Linked DNA regions of Homo sapiens. The protein of the gene in region 1 binds, or shares a complex with, the protein of each later gene. Each region holds a gene or a part of one and is shown on either strand. Other genes may lie near its edges.

The links. The genes of interacting proteins can lie anywhere in the genome.
Region 2: EIF3D (region 1) and EIF3M share a complex: the UniProt entries of both Homo sapiens proteins name them as parts of the eukaryotic translation initiation factor 3 (eIF-3) complex.

Annotation. Positions count from the first base shown.
Region 1 is NC_000022.11:36,515,472-36,519,223, forward strand, and holds part of EIF3D (eukaryotic translation initiation factor 3 subunit D), read right to left. Parts: intron 3,440-3,752; coding exon 3,292-3,439; intron 2,023-3,291; coding exon of another isoform or gene 1,961-2,022; coding exon 1,830-1,960; exon of another isoform or gene 1,829-1,829; intron 1,320-1,828; coding exon 1,234-1,319; intron 1,137-1,233; coding exon 1,007-1,136; intron 1-1,006. UniProt on the Homo sapiens protein: mRNA cap-binding component of the eukaryotic translation initiation factor 3 (eIF-3) complex, a complex required for several steps in the initiation of protein synthesis of a specialized repertoire of mRNAs.
Region 2 is NC_000011.10:32,593,701-32,597,452, reverse strand, and holds part of EIF3M (eukaryotic translation initiation factor 3 subunit M), read right to left. Parts: intron 3,588-3,752; coding exon 3,504-3,587; intron 2,540-3,503; coding exon 2,440-2,539; intron 1,488-2,439; coding exon 1,406-1,487; intron 1-1,405. UniProt on the Homo sapiens protein: Component of the eukaryotic translation initiation factor 3 (eIF-3) complex, which is required for several steps in the initiation of protein synthesis.

The DNA of each region.
Region 1 (3,752 bases):
GAGCCGAGATCGCACCGTTGCACTCCAGCCTGGGCAACAAGAGCGAAACTCCGTTTCAGAAAAATAAAATAAAAAATAAAAGTAAAATACATAAATCGGTATTAAGTCATTAAGTTTCTGTTAATTTGTTATGGTGCGAAAGAAAACTAATACAAAGTTATATAATACAGAAGTATGTATGGCGAAGAGAGCTGTCCAGGTGACTCCACTGGGATCAAAAAGGAGGGGAGCCAGCAAAGACGACATGCAAACGGAACAGGGAAACGGGTGAGACCAGAGTAACGCGGTAACACAGACGGCAAAACGACACAGGCACGACGGCCCTGAATGCTTTGGGGAGCTCACCAGGAAAAATCCAAGAAAAGGCCGCTGGCCCCAGAGCGGCAAACCTTCCAGTGTGCTCTTTCAACAGGTGATGTGGGCGGGGGGGCGGATTGGGAGGGGTGGGGTGGAAATAGAGGAGGAAAAGTGAAGGAAGCATGTTTCTTTCAAGGTGCCTCTGAAGAGTCAATTCTGAGCCAGATCTTAGAATCCATGAGTTAAAGAAATGAGGAATTGCAAAAAATGTGTGAAAAGATTGAAGGCAGTGGCTCAGTCAATGAAAGAAGAGGTCAAAAAGAAGAGCGGCCAGACTTACAGGAAAACTGCCAACCCAGATAATAAGGAGAGGAAAAAATCAGATGCTCAGGGAGCAGAAGTCAACAGGAGGCCACAATGGAACAGAGATGAAGAAAGTACTGGAAGAAGGGAGTTAACTGGTTCCTGCGTAAAAAATAAGCAGAAAAGTTCTTAACACTTAACATAGTTCTACACACACAGTCATGCTCTTTCTCAGCAAGGAACTAAGCAGAGGAAAAAACTCACAAGACAAAAAAAAACATCCAGGTAGCTCTATAAGTAACGAAAGGGGATAAGAAACAGTTTATACAACCTAGCCTGCGTAAACAGGCACTGTAGGGAATAGAGACATGGTGTCACCAGGAGGGTGATGGAGATGGCGGCTCACCCTGGAATCCCACTCATTGAGTGTCTTGATGTTGATGAAGGACACTTCCCCGTTGGCTCCAGTCATGACGCCATCGTGCTCACAACGGACAATAAGGTCAATATCATCTCCAAGCTTCCACCTGCGGTAACTGCAGCAAAAAAGAAACTCATGTGGTCACTGGGGATTCTATAGAGTGGGGCCCGTGCTCCAGTCTGGCCACAATACCCACCAGAGAGGTGACCTACCGGTACGCAACAGAGGCGATTTCATTCTTATCCATGTCGTCCTCCACAAACGGGTTTGGGTTGGGGAAGTTGTATCTTTCCTTCCCCTGCAAAAACAAAGGTGTCACAAGACAGAGCTAACTTTGTTGACAAGGCCAAGGCCAATCAGTCAGACCCAGCACCTCTGCTTAGTTGCAGCCCTGGCCAGGTTCCTGGGGCCCTTGATGGGGCTCTGAGCTCGCTGCCTGTTTTGTGCCTACTTGACCCCTCCCAACTGTTAGCACCTGATGAATTAGAACAATGACTTAGTAACCATGCTCATCTCTACTTCATTTTTTTGCCATGGCATATATTCACCATTTGATGTAAATCAATTTATTATTTATTGTTCACTGTGTTTCCTCCTCCACTATCATTAAATTCTGTAAGGGCAGGAACTTTGTTCAAAGTCAGAGAGCCTAACATCCAAGCCCAGGCATGTAACTCCCCTGCTAAAGGTGGGGACTGCGTCTGACCTGCTCAGTCCCACAACCAAGAGCCTAGCACAAAGCAGATGCTCCACAAACAGCAGCTGATTAAATAAGAATGAATCAATGCCCAGAGACTCGTTTCCTCACCATTCTCAAGCACTGCTGGGAGAAATTGTGGTTGATGTAGGTTGCCTCCATGGCCAGGTTGCGGGGTGAATTGAAGGAATTACCTTCATCTTGAGGGGGCTCATTGGCAGTCTCACTCACTGTCAGGAGGTCTGCAAAAGCGTGGCATGGTCACTCACCATGCAACAAAGAGTCACTGACAATGTGCGCAGCGCTGTGGGGAGATGTGGAGAGGCAAACAACACAAGTCCTTCCTTCAAAGAACTGCCCTCTCCTAAAGTGGGTCTCCCTGGTGTGGAACACATAAGCGGGGGAGTGGGGCAGCTGCTCCAGGATAACTCAAGATACTGTCCAACATTCAATTCAATCACACAGTAACGAAGCTGTCCCTTTTCAGTCGTTTTGGATTCCTCAAGAGAATGATTTTGCAAGCTTTTTAATAAAGACCTCAGGCTTCAGGCTCAGAATATAAACACTTTTTTTTTTGAGATGGAGTCTTGCTCTGTCACCCAGGTTGGAGTGCAGTGGTGTGTCCACGGCTCACTGCAACCTCTGCCTCCTGGGTTCAAGCGATTCTCCTGCCTCAGCCTCCTAAGTAGCTGGGATTACATGTGTCCACCACCACACCTGGCTAATTTTTGTATTTTTAGTAGAGACTGGGTTTCACCATGTTGGCCAGGCTTGGTCTCGATCTCCTGATGTCAAGTGATTCTCCGCCTCGGCCTCCCAAAGTGGCAGGATTACAGGTTGTGAGCCACCGTGTCCAGCCTGTTTTGTTAATTTTTGAGTGACATGGTTTTCCTTTATGGTGTATAAATACATATATGTATGGTATAAAAAATATATATGTATATACAGTAAGCAAACACTGAACAAGGTATGCAAGATGGCAAAAGTCGAAAAAGGGGTATTTAAATGAATAACATTTGGGCCAGGTGTGTTGGCTCACACCTCTAATCGCAGCACTTTGGGAGGCCAAGGCTGATGGATCACTTGAGGCCAGGAGTTCGAGACCAGCCTCGCCAACATGGTGAAACCGTCTCTACTAAAAATATAGAAAGTAGCCAGGCGTAATGGCACATGCCTGTAATCCCAGCTATTCGGGAGGCTGAGGCAGAAGAATCACTTGAATGTGGGAGGCAGACGCTGCAGTGAGCCAAGACTGCGCCACTGCACTCCAGCCTGGGTGACAGAGTGAGACTCTCTGTCTCAATTAAAAAAAAAAAAAAACAACAAAAAAGCAACATTTGGAAGCTTGCTATTAGGGTGCTGTGAGGACTCCAAAAGCTGAGGCCTCAAGCAGGTACTGCAGTGACAGTCTCTTCTCCTAACCTCTAAAGAGTGTGGGAGATTCAGACACTGCTGCTGTCAATTCCCTTGGGAAGACAGACCACTTTCTATCCATTCTCTAGTACCAGAGACTTGTTCTGTACCAACAAAAATACTCAATGCCTTTGAGTTGCTCCCCAGGCACGCTTCTTACCAAAGTCAGAGTTGTCTCTCTTGTCAAAGAAGAGTTTGGACCCAACTCTCTGGACGACAATATCCCAGGAATACACTGAGCGGGTACAGCTCATCAGCGTGGCCAGGATGGCATCAGTGGCAAACACATTCCCCTGAGTTTTTGCCAGCTGCAAAGAGGATCAAAGAGAGAAGATGGAAAGACACTCCCAGGTCTCACTGCCCACTCACATGGATGGGAAAGAACTCCTTTGCTGACCACATAAATCCTTAATAAGGAGGCCCCACCTCATTGACCAAAAACACTGCAGCCAGTGAGCCAGCAAGTTTCGGGTGGCAGTGGCACTGCAGCACCCTAAGCACCTGCTAGATTCCAGCCAAGTGCTTCAGATGCTTTCACCTTTGCCCCAGTGGTAGTGCTATGTACATCTACCCCTTGTTGCAGATGAGAGAACTAAGGCTCCAGAGACTAAGCCAGGAAGC
Region 2 (3,752 bases), on another chromosome or scaffold:
TAAAATTACATTTCCATTTCTAATTCCATCTTTCAGATCTAACTGGCAATACTATATACTTTTGTAATTTGTTAATGGCGGGGGTATCCAAGCATAAAATAGTATAGTAGGGGGGAAAAAACTATTTGTTACCATTCTGTGGCTATGGCTTAAAAAAAGGGACCAAAAATACAAATCACCATATATCTAAGGAATAAAGTCTTCTACAAAGAAACAATATTATTTTAAGAATAATGTTTAGCTTAATAAAGTACCTTTAATCATCAAATTTTATCAGCTCTTAAAACATTTCTGAAAGTTACCATTATGATCAAAGTAATGGTAATTCTTTCAGTTGCTTTTCTGCTCACTCCTCCATCTCTAAATTTTAAAAACAAATGTACCAATGGAACTATTTCTTCAATCTTCTCCAAACACCCGATTGTTGATATAACTTTACCTCAAAGAATCATGGTACAGAAGAGCTGGAAGGGCCTAAAGTTCAGCAAGCTCTTAAATGAGACAAAAAGGTTCCAAGTCATTTTCTCTCTCTTTTTTTTTTGTTTTTTGAGATGGAGCCTCACTCTGTCATCCAGGCTGGAGTGCAGCAGTGTGATCTGAACTCACTGCAACCTCTGCCTCCCGGGTTCAAGTGGTTCTCTTGCCTAAGGCTCCTGAGTAGTTGGCACTACAGGTATGTGCCACCATGCCCACTAATTTTTGTATTTTTAGTAGAAATGGGGTTTTGCCATGTTGGCCAGGCTGGTCTTGAACTCCTGACCTCAAGTGATCCACCCACCTCATCCTCCCAAAGTGCTGGGATTACAAGTGCTAAGTTGTTTTCTTTTCTTTCTTTTTTTTTTTTTTTTTTTTGAGACAGACTCTTGCTCTGTTGCCGAGGCTGGAGTGCAGTGGCACAGTCTTGGCTCACTGCAACCTCCGCCTCCATCTCCCGGGTTCAAGCTATTCTCCTGCCTCAGCCTCTCAAGTAGCTGGGACTACGGGCACCCGCCACCGCGCCCGGCTAATTTTTTGTATTTTTAGTAGAGACAGGGTTTCACCATGTTAGTCAGCCAAGATGGTCTCGACCTCCTGACCTCGTGATCCGCCCGCCTCGGCCTCCAAAGTGCTGGGATTATACCTCTAAGCCACCGCGCTGGGCCCCGAGTTGTTTTCATACTCCCAGTTTCATTCTCTTTCTATCACAAATGCCACCTCCTACACCTTCTTGGTTTCTGATTCTCAATTCATTCTAAGTAATATTTTAAACTGTCTACCTATTTTTGTGCTGTTCTATCATACACGACTCCTTTTAGGATAATCTACAAATAAGGCCACAGCCATACTTGCTGGAACACATAGTACATAACTGTTAGTGTATCATGTTCCCACCTCTGTGCCTCAAAGAATAAACCCCAAAACTTACCAAGTGAATCAATGAAGTCTTTATTATTCTGATAAAACTTGACATATGATGCCAATTTAGCACTCACAAAAATGGTTAAAAGCTATACAGATAAGAGACAAAAAAGATACCATCAATACAGAATTCAGATTTATTGTAAGATATTCTAAGATATTGTAAATATTATTTTAAAGATACTGACTCCTACATTTTGTTCAAGGCAGAAATATCATTCTGTTTCATCAAATTACCAAACCATCTGCTTTCACATGGCTCACTTTTAAAATGAAATAATCAGTAAATACACTGAGCTCTAAATTATCCACACTGAAAGATGATGGCTAATGGCATAGTCCAGATGCACAACAGTCCAAAATATATTTATACTTGCATTTGAAAAATGTTCATGTGTTTTTAAATATCAGACTTATATTCCTAAGTGGGGCTAGGAACAATATATATGTAATAAAAAAGAAACTTGTATTATCTAAGTCTATAATGATGAGTAAGTGAGAAGATGAAAGAAAGGGAGGTAGCCGGGCACAGTGGCTCACGCCTGTAATCCCAGCACTCTGGGAGGCCGAAGTGGGCAGATCATTTGGGGTCAGGGGGGTCAGGAGTCGGAGACCAGACCAACATGGCAAAACTCTGTATCTACTAAAAATACAAAAATTAGCTGGGCCTGATGGCATGTGCCTGTAATCCCAGCTACTTCTCCTGGAAGCTGAGGCAGGAGAATTGCTTAAATCAGGGAGGCAGAGGTTGCAGTGAGCCAAGATCATGCCACCGCACTCCAGCCTGGTGACAGAGTGAGACTCAGTCTCAAAAAAAAAAAAGAAATTAAGAAAGGGAGGAAGAATAGGACTCTGCTCAGTGGATGAAGAAAAGCTGGTCCTAAATATGTCTGTTCCTGATATAAAAAGAATACATAGTTCTTAATCTTTCCATATCTTGCCATTAGTCACTTTTATTAATGCAAAGAAAAAGAGTCCTGCTTCAGTATGTAAAATTTAGGAAAGGAGAACATTTTTCACATTAAAGGATAAACTACTTACATCATGAATAAGCTCGCCTTCCAAAAACTTGACTGGTTTTAAAGTAAGAAGGTGGTCAAAAAGAAATGCATTTGGATCTTTCAATGCTCGTACAATACACCTTAATTAGAGAACAAAAATGTAAGCTCAGGGTTTTGAAATCCTGGCTTTTCATTGAGTTTTTGCAGATCATAAAATATACTTAATTCGGCAAAATATCTAACAGTCCAAAACATATAAACAACATTAAAAAAGCTACAGGATTGGGTTAAGACAGGCCAACACATTTATCAGGTTCATCTGTTTTAACAAAATGAAATATATTAATTGTAGATAAAAACATAGCTGGAGAGAAAGCACCAAGGTAATCAAATAGTAAGCAGCAGCAGAACCACATGCCAAGACACTAAGTGCTTCACTTGCCTTACATCTCATTTATTCCTCACAACAACCTAGGAGACAAACAGTATTACTCTGCCCCCTTTATCAACTATGAAGCAGTTCAGAAGTGCTCATTAAGAGGTGGAGTAAGAATGTGAATGGAGGCAGCCTGACCTCAAAGTCAAGGATCTTTACCACCAACTTCCCTTTTTACCAACTCCTATCATGTAGAGGTCCACACAAAGCAATGACCAAAAAAAGAAGTTTCATAATCCTTATTACATAGATTTAGAAAACTGATTCTATTCTTGTTACCAGTTAGATCTAAGACTGTTAAAAGCCCTTATACTCATTAGCAATGGGTTAATTTTTGGCAAGCCATCAACTTTCCACCTATAACCTTAAAATTAGGGTCAATTGGCCCAAGATTAGGTTCTAATTCTTGGGTTGGGATCATCATCCCCATACCAGCAATACCCCCCCCGCCAGGTAAACGCCATGCAGCTACTTCATATTCAATCCACAGTTCTTCCAATATCAAACCTTGAATTTTAGTATCTACATTAGAATCACCAGGAAATACACACTATCAAATGGCTCTGGATCACTGGTAGTTGCAAACATGATTTCAGTTACTTAATTTAATATTGTAGCTTACCTCTACATCGCTGTCAAACCCTCATCAGAGTAACGTTTAACATTACCTGTGGGCATCAACTCGAGCCTGGGAAGCATTGTCCTCTGTGTAACTTCCGAGCAATTCCACCATGACTTTTGAAGCAGCATCACTAAAAAGAAATATTGCTTTAGGAACTTGAAAGCATTACTGCTATTCATTCATTTAAAATATTTTTAAGAGGCAGGTACTGTGCTGATGACATTATAACGGTGACTAAGAGAGACAAAGTCCCTGTCTATGGGAAAAGTCATAAAACCTTCCTTTTAGTAGGAAA